Linked DNA regions of Homo sapiens: region 1 is linked to region 2. The links come from fine-mapping of genetic effects on plasma protein levels. A gene starts in region 2. The other region holds a variant in brackets. All regions are shown on one strand. Distances are from middle to middle.

What was found. A credible set is the group of variants that fine-mapping cannot tell apart. PIP is the chance, under the fine-mapping model, that this variant and not a neighbour inherited with it causes the effect. The UK Biobank Pharma Proteomics Project read protein levels with antibody pairs (Olink). The fine-mapping took linkage between variants from a reference panel, not from the people measured, so its PIPs are less certain.
Region 1: its variant is the best candidate, but not a certain one, in a credible set for the plasma level of the EHD3 protein (UK Biobank, PIP 0.53).

The regions. Positions count from the first base shown.
Region 1 is chr2:31,253,877-31,262,205 of GRCh38, forward strand. EHD3 (EH domain containing 3) reads left to right here. Exons shown (of 6, transcript NM_014600.3): 4 at 6,634-7,046; 5 at 7,673-7,837. LOC124905983 (a long non-coding RNA gene) reads right to left here. Exons shown (of 4, transcript XR_007086270.1): 2 at 3,780-3,971. Among named protein-coding and RNA genes, the nearest start is that of EHD3, 24 kb to the left of the region's middle. RefSeq lists enhancers at 2,331-3,158, 3,244-3,293. The variant G/A (reference allele first, on the strand shown) is at 4,225.
Region 2 is chr2:31,226,233-31,234,499 of GRCh38, forward strand. It overlaps EHD3 (EH domain containing 3), which reads left to right and starts at 7,920. Exons shown (of 6, transcript NM_014600.3): 1 at 7,920-8,267. It also overlaps a transcript of CAPN14 not described here and the pseudogene RNA5SP90.

The sequences.
Region 1 (8,329 bases), 28 kb after region 2:
CCAGCCTGGCTCATTACTGGGAAGAAGTGAGGATGCAGCAGGAGTGGGAGGGCTCCAGAAGGCTGAGTGTCCTGAGCTTAGGAACCACATTTCCTGGCTGCTTCCCAGCTAGAAATCCCCATAGGCGCCACCTTAGGAAAGCAGGGCGGGGCTTTGTGCTCACATCACAGACTGCACAGCTTGAAGCTCCTCCCCACAGGCCCCTTTCTGCACAGGTGAGCTCAGTAAGGCCAGAGCAGGTTGAAAATTTGCCCGGATCACACATCTAGGGAACTCGGGTCTTCCTATTCCTGGTCCACGGCTTCTCAGCACATTATCATCACCTGCCCCGGAAGAGCACAGGGGGTAGGAATGAGGGCAAACCTCTCATCTCCAGGTTTCCTCTAGGGGTCTTTAGGGCTCAGACCTTGGCAGGTCTGGGCTGATCCTTGCAGCCTCACATTCCTAGCCCATCCAGGGCACCCTCATTGGAGCAGAGCCTGCACTTAAAGGCCTCTGGGTCTTCCCAGACTACGTGCCGGTACAGGCACGCCTGTGTGGGCGCTCCTGTGCCTGGGCAGAGCAGCCGAGTCCTGACGCCCTTCAAAAGGCCTTGCCAACCATCTGCTCGGGCCGCTCTTTGCCGTTACTTCTGGGAAGCATCTAATGTGGCATTTCTTCCCCGTTGTCAGCCAAACTCTTCCCACATTTTGGAAATTGATGCCTTGTTATTCCTCTTTTGCTCAAATGCCTTTAAATCTTGACGGAGATTTTTTTGGGGAGGGATGGGGTTTTGTATGTACCCACCGCAAGTAAGTGCCTGGTTTGAGGGCTCAGCCTCTGAGCTTCAGGCTCACATGGCTGTGAGCTGTTATAGAAAGAGAATGTGGGCTGCAAGTCAAGGAGCTGGGTTCCAGGCCTGAGTTTGCCACCACCTGGCTGTGTGAGCTTGGGCAAGCCCCTTAATCTCTTTGTGTCCAGATTCCCTGTCCTGTAAGATGTGTATGCCCTACTTACCTCCTGGGATACAGAGAATTATGAAGAGCGAATGAGGTCACGTGGCTGGAAACCCGAAGAAGTATGCTGCCCTGTGAGGGCCCAGGCACTGCATGCCAGGCCATGATGGAAGCCGGCGGGTGAGGAAGGGGTGGCTTTCCTTACTGTGTTTGTCTGATTGATTTCCTCTTGCCTGGCATTACTTCAAAGTGCTTTCTTTCCAGTCATCTGGAGCCTCCGGTTGGAGGGGACCATAGATCCCTGCAGGCTGCCCAGTCTCCAGGCCCGGAGCTGGCTGACTAGACCTCTTAGAGCCAGCAGACTTGTGCTATGAAGTCCAGGAAGGGCAGCTTCTCTGCTCTGTCTCTTGGGGCTTGAATCTCCCCCGACTCACTAGTCCATATTTCATGAACACTTGGGCTGCCGCAGGTGCCCAAGAGCTACCGTTGTGGGTCTCAGAGCCATCGCTGGGACCAGAGAGGGGAAGGGGGCCTGTCACTGGCCATAGCACTCACCGCAGCTGCTGAGGCAGTCTGTGCTGTCAGATCTTGTTGCCACAGCTCTACCACAGAGTCCTCATTCAGCTCTACCACAGACCCCTCATTCAGTCATTTGTTATCCCTATTTTGCAGCTGAGAAAATTGAGGTTCAGATTTGCCAAATAAATGAGAAAGCTAATCCTATACCATACCCTTTTTCTTACTGGGTCCAGTCCATACCTTTGAGATACCGCCATTCCTAGATCTGCACCTAAGTCCAGGCCAAGTGAACAACTAAATATCCACCCTACAGATGACACAGCCTCGGGGTTAGCCAGGAGCAGGGAAGTCGAGCTTCAGAGCAACCCATGGAGTCATTGCTTGATGGTCATGGTCTTCACAGCCACACCTGGCTGGAAGCTTCTGGCATTACTGAGTCTGTAATTGGATAGCAGCTTTCCAGAGCAAATAGGAGGCCTCTGCTTATAAAATCACGGAAAGAGTTCCCAGAAGCCCTTGGCCTGTCCTCAGGCAGAGGCAGACTTCACACAGGCATCCCCGAGGCCTGTAAGACAGCAGCCTGCAGCCTCTCTCTCTTGCTGTGCCTGCAAAGGGTCCCTTGTAGCTAATCTCCATCCATCCTGTTGTACTCCCCACCCTCACACCTCTGGTCTCAGATGCAGAGAATTGTGAACCGAGAAAGGAAGCTCGGAGGTTGTCCAGCTCAATCCCCTGATTTGACAGGCAAAGAGACAGAGGACTAGAGAGGGGAGATTCTTGCCCAAGGACACACAGTAAGTTAGTGGCTAAGCGGAAACGAGAGGTGGACTCACCCAGGCCAGTGCTCCTCTGGTGACTCCTACAGAGCACATCCCATCTCATAGAAACTAGGGCTTAAAAGGAGTGCTTTACAAAAAACAGCAGGGCAATGAGAACAGCCAAGGTCACAGCTCAGCAGTTTCACCTGCATCCTCTGATTTGTTTAGATCCTCACAATAACCCTACGACTGAGTCACTGATTCCTCAACCATAAAACTGAGGCCCAGAGATTACTCATTTACTGTCTCCCAGATGCCAAACGTGGAACAGGTTTCCACGTTTTCCACGTTTCACTTCCGTTCAGCAAATACTGATAGTGCACCTGCTGTGTGCCACACACCGTGCTGGGTGCAGGGGAAGCCCAGAAGGGTGAGGTGCTGCCCCTGCCCTGTCCAGCTCCCAGTGCACCGAGGATGATTTCAGTGAGCTGAAGAGCAGAACAGGAGCGTGCATGATGCTACAAGACCACTGAGGGCAGGGACAGGGATAGGCAGGGGTCTATCCTGTTCTGGCAGCATGGACATATTGCTGCCCCTCAGCCTTTGCAGACACAGCCTTCTCTTACATCGCTGGTGTCATCAGGGATTGCAGCAAGTTGCAGGGACAGAGCCTCTTCCCTTCTCTGCAGCTTCTCTGGTGTCTTTGTTTTCCCCAGCCTGGTGGAGGCGTGGCTACAGTGCAAGAGTTGAGTTTGGAGTTCAGGTCTTGGCTCTGACCCCCAGCATTGCATGGCCTTGGGCCTTTCTCTCACCCTCTATAAACCTCCATTACCTTGTCAGCATAGGACTCAACACTGGCTGCCCTGGCTGCCTTAGCCTGTTCTGAGCCATTGAGCCAATATATTGGGGCTGAGATTTGCTGGACAGGTGAGAGGGAGCTGCAGCCCAGTCTTGGTCCTCCCAGCAGCCCCTCCTGTGGCCTGCACTGGCACAGCTAAAATCCAGATTGGGGAATAAGGAGCAGCAGAAGGCCAGAGGCCTGGCAGGGAGTTGTGGAGGGTCCCTACTGCCCTCCTGCTGTGAGCTGTTTGCAGAGGTGGGGGTTGGGGATTTTCTTAGCCCTCTGGCCCCTCCCTACCCACAGCTCTGAGGGACTGCCTTTGGGAGGTGACAGCAGCCTTGCCATGCGCTGTGCTGAAGGGAAGATAAAAATAGGCTGGAGCCATCCCTGGGAAGGGAAGGATGGACAGAGGGATGTAGGAAGGAGGGGAGTAGTGCGGGCTGCAGGCTTCACCTGAAGTGGGAATGCTTAGGCTTCCCGGGCTCCAGTGAGGAGCTGGCTGTGCCTGCGTGCCAGGGAGGGAGGGAGGGAGGCAGGGAGCGGCCAGGTGCAGAACGGCTGGATGGCTGACAGCTGGGTCATCTGGCCTCACGACTTGCCAACTGTTTGACTCTCTCCTCTCTGAACCTCAGTTTCCTCCCCTGGAAGTGAGAACGATACTCCTCGCGCTGCCTGCCTCAGAGCGTGTCGTGAGGGTGACATGAGATAATGACATGAACATCTTACCGTCTGCAGCAAGCACTGAACTTCGAGTTGGAGGCTAGGGGTCGTGTCTCATGGGTGGTATTGGCTGAGTCACTTAACTCCTAGAGTTTGCGTGAACATCTCCGAGGGAGGGTTGATGATGCCCCTGCCCACTGGGCAGAGCAGCCTCTGAAGCACTTTCCTGGGCCTTGTCTCTGAGCCGAGACAGGACACCTGTGTTCAAAAGAGAAGGCAAAATCTAGTTCACACCAGGCCCTCGATGACGCACCCATCAGGAACTATCCTCAGGATGGCACCTGGAGATACTGGGCCAGCTCTGCCCCTTCCTGAGCCTCAGTTTCCCTATCTGTAAATCAGGAAGTTGGACCATTGATGGCTAAGCTCCTCGTAGCCTCATAGGTCTACGCCACAGGAGCAGGGGGAGAAGGCTCAGGTGTTAGTTGAGCTGTATATTCATTGAGCAGCT[G/A]ACAGATCTTGGAGAAAATCACATGGCAATGGGAATGCTTGGAAGCACTTCATTTACCAAAGACAGAGGAGCTGAAAATGGAGTAGTACTGGCATCCGGGTAACCAAAGGAGGGTTTGACCTTCCTTTGTTTGTTAGAATTCTCTTACAGCCACCAGGGAAACATTACAGGGGTCCTCCAGGAAGCTTTAGGGCAGCAAGTTTTCCCGACCGTCTGATCCCATCCCCCTACCCCCTGTGGCAGTGCCTCCACACGTCCTAAATATGTACCCCACTGGGTGTTCACTAGATGCCACAGGGTGGGGGAAAGGCTTTTTAAACCTAGCTCCGTTGGCTCCATTCATCCTCATCCCCCACCCCATCGATGCCTGCTACTTAGTCTGAAATGACAGCCTTTGAAAGTGAAAGCCAACTCGGTGCAGTGGTTCATAGCACTGACTCCAGGGCTACCTTCCTGGACTTGAGTCCCAGCCCATTGCTTACCAGCTGGGTGACCTTAGACAAGTTCCTTTATCTGTTTGTATCTCTGGTTACTCCTCAGAGAAGTGGGGCTGATATTAGTGTCTAATGACCCTACACAGAGTCATCGTGAGGATTAAAGGAATGAATGATTATAAAGTACTTAGGTCAGTGCTGAACACCTTTTGAATGCTATTGTTATTTTTATGGGCCAGTGGTATTCAAAGTGTGGCCCTTGGACCAACAGCATCAGAATCTCCTGGGAGCTTGTTAGAAATGCTCTGCGCCAGACCTACTGAATCAGAAACTTTGGGGATAGAGTCCAACCATCTGGGTTTTAAGAAGCCCTGGGGGGATTCTGATGGAGGCTAAGTCAGGACCCCTGTTAAAGACAGTCAGAGCTTCTTAAGTCTGACTCACTCACAAGGCAGTTGCCTGATGATCTTGCCTGGTCTCTAGCCTCCCTCTGTGAGGCAGGGCAGGCTTTTTCCTAATGATTTGGTTTCCCATTCGATGGTGGCAATGAGCTTTGGGTCCCCAGTGTGTGTCACCTTGGAACCCTTGTGCTATGGGGAGCCAGGATGGTTGGTCACTTTAGTACCCAAGAAAGGGCTCCTACCTTGGTGCCAGAGGTATGCCACGGGGGAGTGGCAGGAGGAGAGGCTGAGAACCCTGCTCAGACTCAGAATGGGAAAGCCTAACACCTCCATCTTCATGCGACTGCTGCTGCTCATGGGCTGTGTGCCCTTCGACAAATCACTTGACTTCTCTGAGCCCCACTTCCTTATCTCTTGTCTTCCTATTTTATGTAAGAGGAGCCTGAGACACAGAGGTAAGACCTACTGGGGCTCTGGGTGTCAGTGAATGTATAGACTATTGGTCCACCCTCCTACTTCAGCTCCTACTGGATCCACAGCTACTTGGGATTGAGCAGAACAACTTCTCTGGGGCTCCTGTAACCAGTCTGACCTAAAGCAGCTTAGTGCTAGATAACCAAGATGCGGGTGGCCAGAGTTCCAGTCACATCCTAAGGAAGAAACCCCTTGTGGTTTCAAGAGTTGGGAATTTTGTGCTGCAGCTGATTACAAAGGAAAGAGCCTGAGTGAGAACAAGATGTTTTTATAACAAGAATTGCAGATTTCTTCCAGACCAGTGACAGGCATGGTCTGAACCATCATCAGTATCTACTTTTTAGTGTTTCATTGTTTTCAGACCTTAGAAAGAATTTCTGGGTCTTTGTGTCAGATTAGGTGTCCAGACTTTCTTTTCCAGCGGGCTGCTAAATACAGTAAGCACGGATAGGGGAGCTGGTATGGAAATAATGACGTTAATAAGAGTTACTAGGCCAGGCGCAGTGGCTGGCTGGGGGCGGTGGCTCACACCTATAATCCCAGCACTTTGGGAGGCCAAGGCAGGCGCATCACCTGAGGTCAGGAGTTCAAGACTCAGCCTGGCTAACATGGTTAAACCTGTCTCTACTAAAAACACAAAAATTAGACGGGCATGGTGGCGCATGCCTGTAATCCCAGCTACTCGGGAGGCTGAGGCAGGAAAATCACTTGACCCCAGGAGGCAGAGGTTGCAGTGAGCAGAGGCAGTGCCACTACACTCCAGCCTGGGTGAGAGAGCAAGACTCCGTCTCAAAAAAAAAAGTAACTAGCATTTACTGAGCACCTACTAAGTGCCGGATTCTAAGAGTATTTAATCTTCATAGTTCTATTAACTAGGTATTCATATTATTTTAGTATTTAACAGTATTTTTAGACGAAAAAAATTCTATGAGACATTGAGTAATTTGCTGGAGTCCAAACAGTTAAAATGTGGAGGAGCCAGGATTTAAACTTAGATCTGACTCCCAAGACTGTGTTATTTCTACCACACCCGACTGCTTCTCCAAACCCCTACCCTATACCCCAAAGGCCCCAGCCCCTGATTGTCCCTCTGCCGGCAGGGTATGACTTTGCAGCTGTCCTTGAGTGGTTTGCCGAGCGGGTTGACCGCATCATTCTGCTCTTCGATGCCCACAAACTGGACATCTCTGATGAGTTCTCAGAAGTCATCAAAGCCCTCAAGAACCACGAGGACAAGATGCGAGTGGTGCTGAACAAAGCTGACCAGATCGAGACGCAGCAGCTGATGCGGGTGTACGGGGCCCTCATGTGGTCCTTGGGGAAGATCGTGAACACCCCAGAGGTGATCCGGGTCTACATCGGCTCCTTCTGGTCCCACCCCCTCCTCATCCCTGACAACCGGAAGCTCTTTGAGGCTGAGGAACAGGACCTATTCAGGGACATCCAGAGTCTGCCCCGAAATGCTGCCCTGCGCAAGCTCAACGACCTCATCAAAAGGGCCAGGCTGGCCAAGGTGAGGCAGCCCCCTGGGAGGTGGGCAGCTTGGGCAGGGGCCCAGAGTTTGGGGTCAGCTGCACGAGCTGAGGGTTGCTGCCTCCAACAGCCAGTGCATCATGTGTGTGACACCAAGGGGCAGGACAGTGCGGGAGCCATGGTTACAAGCTCTCAGGTCAGATGGCCAGATTGGAACTGACTCCATTGTTTACTGTCTGTGGGATTCCCAGCCTTGGCAAGGCCTTTAGTCTCTCTGTGCCTCTGTTTGCATCTGTAAAATGAAGGGGTTGTTGGAGGATAAAGTGAAATAAAGAGTCTCAAAGCCCTCATCACAGTGTCTGGCACCTTCAGAGATGCTCAGCAACTGTCAGCTGCTGGTATTGCCTTCAGCAGCAGCAACATGACCACCTCACCCTGCCTTGACCATAGCTCCCCACAACCTCACCTTGCCCACATAACATAGAAAAACAGCCCAGCCCTGCAAGCAACATGGAGCCATGAGGGTAGAGGTAGAAATTATTTCAAAAGTAGGAGCAGGAGGAGGCGGGAGGGATGTAGGGGAAGGAATGATGCAAGAGCCATCCTAGAAGGAAGGGACCGTCCAGGGTCTTGATGTGAAGGCTTCTCTCTGGCCCTGTTTGTCAGGTCCACGCCTACATCATCAGCTCTCTGAAGAAGGAGATGCCCTCGGTGTTCGGGAAGGACAACAAGAAGAAGGAGCTGGTCAACAACCTGGCCGAGATCTATGGCCGGATCGAGCGGGAGCACCAGATCTCACCTGGGGACTTCCCCAATCTGAAGAGGATGCAGGTAGCGAGGGCTGGGGTCTCTAAGACAAGGGACAGTGTCCCGAGAGCTGGCTGAGCAGCCTGAGTATGGAGGAGGCCACTCTTGGAGCCCCCCAGGGAGAACCCCGCCCAGAATCTGCAGGCAAGGAGGTGGCCCTGGATCTACACTCCTAGCTGGGCCATCACTGGCCCAACAGGGGCCATGTCTGGGCCTGGGGAGAAACACGGAGCCCACCGCCCCAGTGGTGCAGGTGTGTTAGATGATGCTGGGGGGCTGACACCTCCAGTTAATGACCTTCTCTAGTCACAGCCACCACAGGCTTGACGTCCCCACCATCTCTGGTGCAGTGGGATGGGTCACCTGACCAAGGTTCTCCAGGCTCTTAAAGTGCTCGAGTTTACATCTGAGGTCCCCCTTGTGAGCAATCTGGGACACGAGCTTCGGGGAGGCAGAAGTGCACACGGGAACTCGTCATCTTTGGGTCCTATTGCAGGTGCCTATCTTGGGCCAGTG
Region 2 (8,267 bases):
CCTGTGTATTTTTAAATATCCCACGCTCATAGGTTCTGCCTTTATCAGGTTCTCTGTGCTCACAGACATTTTTGTAGTCATAGACTTATCTGTTATAACATATAAGGTTATAATAATTGGCCAACTACAGGTAATTCACATTTCTAATCTTTGTTTGCTTGTCAAAAGCCACATCAGGAATGAGTCAACTTCAGTGCCTGCACCAGCCCTGTGCAGGGTTAAAAGAGAGCTTTTCTCCTCAAGGTGCTTCCTCTATCTCCCCTGGCAAAGAGACAGACATGTAAACAACACTTACAGCCCGGGAAAGATGCTCAGGAACTGGTGCTGGTCCTGGGGTCCTTCAGCATGGATTTTTCTGCTTTTGGTGTTTCCCTTACCCAAGCGAGGCTGTTGAGTGGGATGGTGCAATCAAGATCCTGCTGGCAGGGACAGACAGATATATTTGGGTTTGGAACTAATAACTTGTTTCTGTTTTTGCACTGATCAAGCAGCTCAGAGCCCAGTGTGATGGCTGCTCACCTCTGGGGGCCTCCTGCTCATCTCCCTCTGATATTTCTGTACCATTCACCTGCCCATTCCCCTCATATCAGCTGCCTCAAGGGTTCATTTATTTTTTAGAATTCAAGGGATTTCGGTAAGCTGCCTCCCACTTTTTGTGGACTGAGGGGAAAGTGAGTAGGATGATAGATAGCTCAATCAAAGATGCCTGTGTGGGCAGTTTCCTACCTCTCTGCACCTGAGTTTCCCTCTGGGAAACATCCCTATCTTCCTCTTCAGGATTGCCATGAGGACTAGATGCCCACGCTCTGGAAACACCTGTGCTACAAAAGCAGACACTGACCATAATTAGGAGATTTTCGAATTATAGCTCACATCTTGCAGGTAGCAAATGTCTTGCCTTTGGAAGTTGAGGTTCTTAGAAGCAGGCATCTTATTAAAACCAGATACACACCGCTGCCTCTCGTGGTGTGGGCTTTCCTCCGTGTAATATTGGATTTCTCAGGTTAGCTCTGCTCCTGCTGCACCCAGGGATGAAACTGACTTTCTGCCAAGGAGAGCTGCTATGTATGAGACAGCCGCATTCCAGCAATTAAGTAGCTGTGGTACCGATGGTATGAATGGGGAGTGTTATTCCTGGACAGCCCATCAACTAGACTCAGACAGACCCTCTTTCTTCATCTCCTTTTTGGCTTATAAACTTCCTAAGCACAGTTCCCTCACCTGTGTATTTTTATTCTAGACTTCCCTTTCCTTGTGCACGTTCAGTACTCATTCATCCAAGGGGAAAGGGAACTATTTATTGAGCGCTTACTATAGACTTATAAAAACGTATCAGGTCCTTGACCTACATTGTTTCATTTTATCCCCACAACAACATTGTGAAGCGTCATTGGCACTTTTCTGCCTTTGGTGTTTCTCTTACCCTGGTTTCACTGATGAGGACCTTGTCATAAAAAGAGGTTTTAACTCGGCCTGATCTCATCAGTAGGAATTGGCTGAGCTGATGCACTTTCGCCTCCAACTGAAGTAAACAGAATGAGTACAGCACTGCGTCAGGCTGAAGACGTGCCCTGTCTAGTTGGAAGGCAAACAATTTAAACATGTAATTATAGTAACATGTGATGAATGCGGTAACAGAGGTTTACGTGGGGTAGCTTGGAAGTGGGGAGAGGGGCACAGCCTTCTTATGGGAGAGCTGCTGACTCAGCTCTTCAGAGGGCGGACCACCACACTGAGCCTTAAGGTATGAGTGGGTGCCCACCAGGCAGAGGGTGGGGAAGGGAAGACTGAGGCTGAAGACAGGGTGTGCAAAGGAGCCCGCGTGGTGAGGAGCAGGAAGCAGCTGTGGGAGGCACGCATGCGTGCATGGTTGTAGGCAGGTCACCAGGATGCAATGGTAGTTGGGCCAGGTTGAAAGGGGCCATAGATTCCTAAGATTATGGACACTTGGTCCCACTTCCCAATTCTTCTAACTCCCCTAGCCAGGGCTCAAACTTGTATTCCAGGTTGCTGCTACAGTTTCCATCTTCTCCCTTTACTTCTGGCCAGACTCTGGTGTTGTGGATGAGAAAGGGAAGTGTCTGTATCCACACCACCCTGAATGCACCCGATCTCATCTGATCTTGGAAGCTAAGGAGGGTTCGGCCTGAGTTAGTATCTGAGTGGGAGAAACAGAAGAGATGGAAAAGTCTTCTGTTTCATAGTGTCACCCCTAAGAACCCAGAGCAAACACCACAGATATCACTACTAAAAATTATATTCCTTTGAGTCAATGAGCCATCCTCAGTTAAGACACAAATGAAGTGAAAGAAGTTGCTCACTAACTTATTAGGTGCCAGCATATTAAATAGCTTATTAAATATTACAGCTATTAAATACTAAGCTTATTCAATAGTTTATTAAACAGCTTCTTAAATAGGATATAAGGCAGTGCCATGTAGTGGATAAAAGTAATAATCATTATAATATTAAGAACTAATACATACTGAACACTTTCAATGGCACTTTACATGCACGGTCCCTTTAATCCTGAAAAAATGCTATTGCCATCTTTATTTCAGAGACCAGGGTGCTAAGGCTTGAGAGTGAAGCCACTTTCCCCAAGCTCACACAGCAAAGACACGGGGACACCAGGACTCCATCTACTGCAGGTTGTCTGACTGGGAACCCCCATGCACCTGGCAGGTGACAGAAATAGGAGGCATGTGCTGGGTTTGGAAGAGACACCTGGTGGGAGAGGGCCCTGTGGAGCCAGATGGGGCTGAAAACAAATGTTGAATGCAAGAAAAGTCGAGTTCCAGGGGCATTACATGCAGCAGGATATGCTTTTTAGAAAAAGTCCAAAAACACTAAACTTCAACAATATGTTCTTTTGGCTTGCATTTGTGTATAACCGTAATTAAAAAGCAAGGGGACAACACACAGTAGATTCAGGATAGGGGTCCCCTCTAGAAAGAAGGAGAAGGGGCAGGAGACAGGATGGGGAGGAGCACATAAGTAGATGTAAATTGCTGCTAATTTTTCTAGTCCTTGGTTTGAATGATAGGTTCATCAAGGGTCCATTACAAAAACATGTGTTAAGTTTTTTAAAAATATAATAAAGGAGCCAGGTGTAGTTTGTCTTGAACCACAGTTATGAAAAAAATTCCAACTTTGTGCATCCAAGGACCAGATTTTTTTTAAAATAAAGGATAAAAGGAATAAGAAATGAACAGCCAAGTATTCACTATCAAATTTGAGGAATAATAGCCTGGCCAACATGGTGAAACTCCATCTCTACTAAAAATACAAAAATTAGCCAGGTGTGGTGGCTCATGCCTGTAGTCCCAGCTACTTGCGAGGCTGAGGCAGGCTGAGAATCTCTTGAACCCAGGAAGTAGAGGTTGCAGTAGGCCAAGATGGCGCCACTGCACTCCAGCCTGGGTGACAGAGCAAGACCCTATGTCCAAAAAAAAAAAAAAAAAAAAGGAAAAGAAAAAGAAAGAAAACAGTGTATATATAGTATATAGCTGAAGCTCCCTGTGTACCCATCCCCAATTCCATTTCCCTTTTTTGTCCCAGAGAACACCCCATTCCTGACTAGTGTTTTATGTTCCTTTGCTTCTCTTTTTAAAAACTTCAATGCACACATATGCATCCATGAACAACAGATAGTGGTTTTTGCATGACCTGAAACATTAATGAAATTGTATGATTCTATGCATAATAGCCTACTTCTGGCTTTATTCACTCAACACCATATTTTGGCATAGGTAGCACCACTTCCCTCATTTTTCTCATCTGTAGAGTATGTATTTTTTGTAACTTTCATTTTAGGTTCGGGGGTACATGTGAAGGTTTGTTATATAGGTAAACTAGTGTCATGGAGGTCTGTTGTACAGATGATTTCATCACCCAGGTGTTAAGTCTAGTAACCAATAGTTCTTGCTTTTTGTTCCTCTCCTTCCTCCCACCCTCCACCCTCAACTAGACCCCAGTGTGGTATATATTTTATATGAATGTGGCACATTTATCCATTTACTCGGTGAAGGACATTTAGTTGTTTATAAATTTTTGCTGCTACAAATAATGTTGCCATCAACATTCTTAAGACTTATCTCCCTATGCACATGTGCAAGAGTTTCTCTAGATCACGCCTTGAAATAGAATGGAAGGAGATAGGTCATAGGACATGCACATCTTCAGCTTCACTAAGCAATGCCAAACTGTTTCCCAAAGTATTTGTGCCAGCCTGCACGCCCATCAGCATTTTATGAGAGCTCCCATTGCTCTACATCCTCACCAACCCTACCATCCAACTTTTTATTCTTGCCATTTTGGTGGGTATGGAGTGTTAGTGTGGTTTGGCATTTCTCTAATTACTAATGAGATGCAACATGTTTTCTTGCGTTTATAGGGCATTCATGTAGCCTCTTGTAAAAGACATTTTTGTAGCTCTTGCCAAGTTTTTTTCTATTGGAATGTTTGTCTTTGTTATCGATGCACAGCCATTAGTTCTATATTCTGGATGTGCTTTCATGGGTTTTTGTGTATAGGAAATATCTTTTCACTCACTTTTGTATTTTTAGTTGAACGAAAGTTTTAAATTTTGCTAGTGCTAAACTTAGTTTTTTTCATTTTTCAGTTTGTGCTTCTGACGTCTTGTTTAAAGAACTCTTCCTGACTTTGTGGTGATATATATGCAATCTCTATTGCAACTTCTGTATATGTCAGGCTTCCAAATTTCCTGGCTATTTACTGTGTTGTTATTCTGTTGGTCTCTGTGCCAAAACCATATTAACCACTGTAACTCCATAACAATGTCCACTAGGGCAAGTCCTCTTCGCTTAGTTGTTGCCATTGCTATGTTACTGTTGTCCTCTTCTCTTCTCTGTTCTCCTTTTTCTGCCCTCCTTCCCCTTCCACCTCTCCCTCTCCTCCTCCTTATTCTTCTTATCTTCTTTCTTCTCCTGGAATATCTAAGCTTTTTTTTACTATTGCTCTATAAGTTATACATTTTAGAATCACCTTGTCAATTTCCATGGAAAACCTTATTTAGATTTTGATTTCAATCATATCTCTCAATTATTGAATTTATCAATCATGTTGTAAAGAATTCACATGTTTGTGACAAGGAATCCTTCCACAATGGAACATGGCATGTCTCTCCCATTTACTTAGAACTTCTTTAACATCTTTCTATAAAGTTTTATTATTTTTCACATAAAGATCTTGCATATCTTTTGTCAGATTTATCCGTAAGTTTTTGTTCTTTTGAACACAGTATCTTTTTTGAATATTATCTTTCATGACCTTTTATTGCTAGTCTATAGAAATGCTCCATTAGTTCCTTTTTTAAACAGATAGATTTCAACTACTCAAGACTGAGACGGGAGTAGATGTGTCAACACGCACTTGGTAAATTAGATATTCGGAACAGACATTCAGCAGTAGACAATGGCATGGCCGTACTGATTACAAAATTCTTGAAATACTTCCATAATGGGGCCCCTTGATTTCTTTCCTGTCACGCTGGCCATACTGACCTCTCTCCGGGGACAGGCTCAGATCTCTCCAAGGTCCAGACGCCACTGTATTAACACCAGGCGTGGCACGGGGCCGCAAGCCTTGCTCCACTAGGAAGGCCAGTGTCTGTTCCGGGTGTTTGATTCTCATGCCTTGTGAGTTGTTAAATATCTTTAATATTACTCCTTAGGTTCGTATGTTGGTAGTAGCTAAACACCAAGGGTGAAATATTAATCTGAGTGAATTCTCAACAAGAGATGATCAGTTTTGGGGTTCAAGGAGGGAGTCGGGAGATCTGAGATGTAACTAAGGAGATTCTATTCAGCACTGGCCTCTGATAATCCCCCCTCCCCTGAAATCCCTGCAGCTTCACCACACTCCTCTTGAAGCTCCTGCAGGCACTTCAAACGCAACACGTTTTAGATTGAACACATTATCTCTGTCTGCTAAATCAGCTCTCTCTCTGCCTCCCCTAATTAGTGGAAGAGCTTCTCCAATGATCTTATCCCCTATGGTAGAAAATTCAAAATCATCCTAGACTGTGCCTCACCCTTATGTCCTCTTTTTTTTATCACATACCAAGATCTGACAATTCTATTCCATGAAAAAAATCTTTTGAGTCTGACCTCTTCTCCAATCCCATTGCAGCTGTCTCCTAAGTTTTGGAATAGTTTCCTAAATGGTCTCTTGGCCTCTGTATTCGTCTGTTTTCACACTGCTGTGAAGAAATACCTAAGACTGGGTAATTTATAAAGGAAAAAGGTTTAATTAACTCACAGTTCTGCATGCCTAGAGAGGCCTCAGGAAACTTACAGTCATGGCATAAAGGGAAGCAAACACGTCCTTCATAAGGCGGCAGGAGAGAGAAGTATGAGGAACCAAGTGGGAAGAGCCCCTTATAAAACCATCAGCTCTCACGAGAACTCACTCACTATCATGAGAACAGCATGAATGAAACTGTCCCTATGATCCAATCTCCTCCCACCAGCTCTCTCCCTAAACGCATGGGGATTATGGGGATTACAATTAGAGATGAGATTTATGCGGGGACACAAAGCAAAACCATATCAACCCCCAACCTCTTTTGCCCCTCCAACACTGCTCTTGGCATTCCAGTTCCTGCCTGGTCCATAGCCTACTCCTTCTTCATCTGTGGAAGGGAGGGTAGTGGGAGTCATTAGCCTGGGCAGGGAGGAGTGTTTTATCACTACACTGTTTAGAATGGTGCCAATACAAAGCACATCAACTTTCAGCAAGTTTATTATTGGGTTTAAATTCTCTACACACGATGCACTGCTTTTGCCTACACCTGGACAGTGTTCCCACTCACTCTCCTTAGTATGATGCTGGAGATAATATGATCTGCCATGAAGGTTAAATAAAGCAATGTTCACTGAGAACTTAGCCCAGGCCCCTGCACATGCTGAGCATTTTGTTAATGTAACAATGATTAGTAATAGCATTGCTATTGGTTCCCCATCTCTGGCAAAGCCTTTCATGCTTGGCCTCCCTCACTCTCTTTCACCTTCCTAAACCCTACACTCCAGCTATGCCAAACTGTTTACTCTGCCTTGGACACACCAAGTTCCTCAAGCCTTTGCAAATACTCCTTACGCTCCTAGAACAATGGATGTCAATTCATCATTTAGGATCCAGCTTACAGTCATGCTTTCCATGAAGCCTTCCTCAAATTAGCCACACAAAAGGAGTGACTCCTCCCTGTATTCCCATGACCCTCTGCTCATGCCTCCTCTTTAAAGCCTGCCTTCACTGGAGTTCCTGGAAGGGAGAGTCTGTTCAGCACTCATCTCTGTATCCACAGTCACCAAAATTGTAACTGCCCCATAATAAATTCCCAATACTTGCAGGGATTTTGCTTCTTGGCTTGTTTTGTTTTGCTGGAATGAATGAATAAGTAAATGGGAACGATTTTGACTTCACCCTAAGCCTAGCTAAAAGTTTGGGTAGTGACAGTTTTGGTTATTTTGTGTAACCTGATAGTGGATCCCCTTTCTATGCCAAAAAAAAAAAAAATCCCCCAATACTAGAGTACCTGTTTTCCTAGGGAATTGACCTCAGCAACTGAAGGAGAGGCGATTCAAAGCAGGGAGTGTGATGAATAGGTCAACTCTGTCCTCGCAGCCGTCCCTGAGAGGGCGCTGTTCCCAAATCGAAGCCCCAGAGGCGGAGACTGAGACACCGGCACTCTCCCACTGGACTGGGTCAGCATCCCTCTCCCCGCGCGGCCGCAGGTCTAGAGCTGAGCGCCTGCCCACAAACATGGCGGCGCCCTGCGCGGCTTCCCGTCGCCGCAACCGTGGGGCCGGCCCTGCCTTGCCAGTACTAGGGGACTTCCTCTGCGCGCCGGCTTCCTGCCCAGCTGGCATTTAAACCACCGCCTGGGGCTGCAGGATGCTGCTGCGGATGCAGAGCTGTCCGCGGGCTGGGCAGCGTCGCCGTCTCCCCTGAGCCGCCTCGGTCCGGCAGGAGCGGAGCCGAAGCATCCCTTGCTGCACGCAGGGCAGAGCAGGCGAGGGCTGGGGGCCGATCGGGGACCCCGGCTTGGGACCCCGGCATCTGGCAGTTTCCTTGCAGGTTCAACTTTAATTGCCAAGATTTCACCCCTCCTCCTCAAGCCCAGATTATTTATCCTCCCTCCGGCCTGGGCTGCTGGATGCAGCAGCGGCTGGGCTTGGTCCCAGGAGCAGGGAGAGTGCGCTCCCGGCCCTCCTAGCCGCGTGCCCGGGCCATGGTGCGGCTGA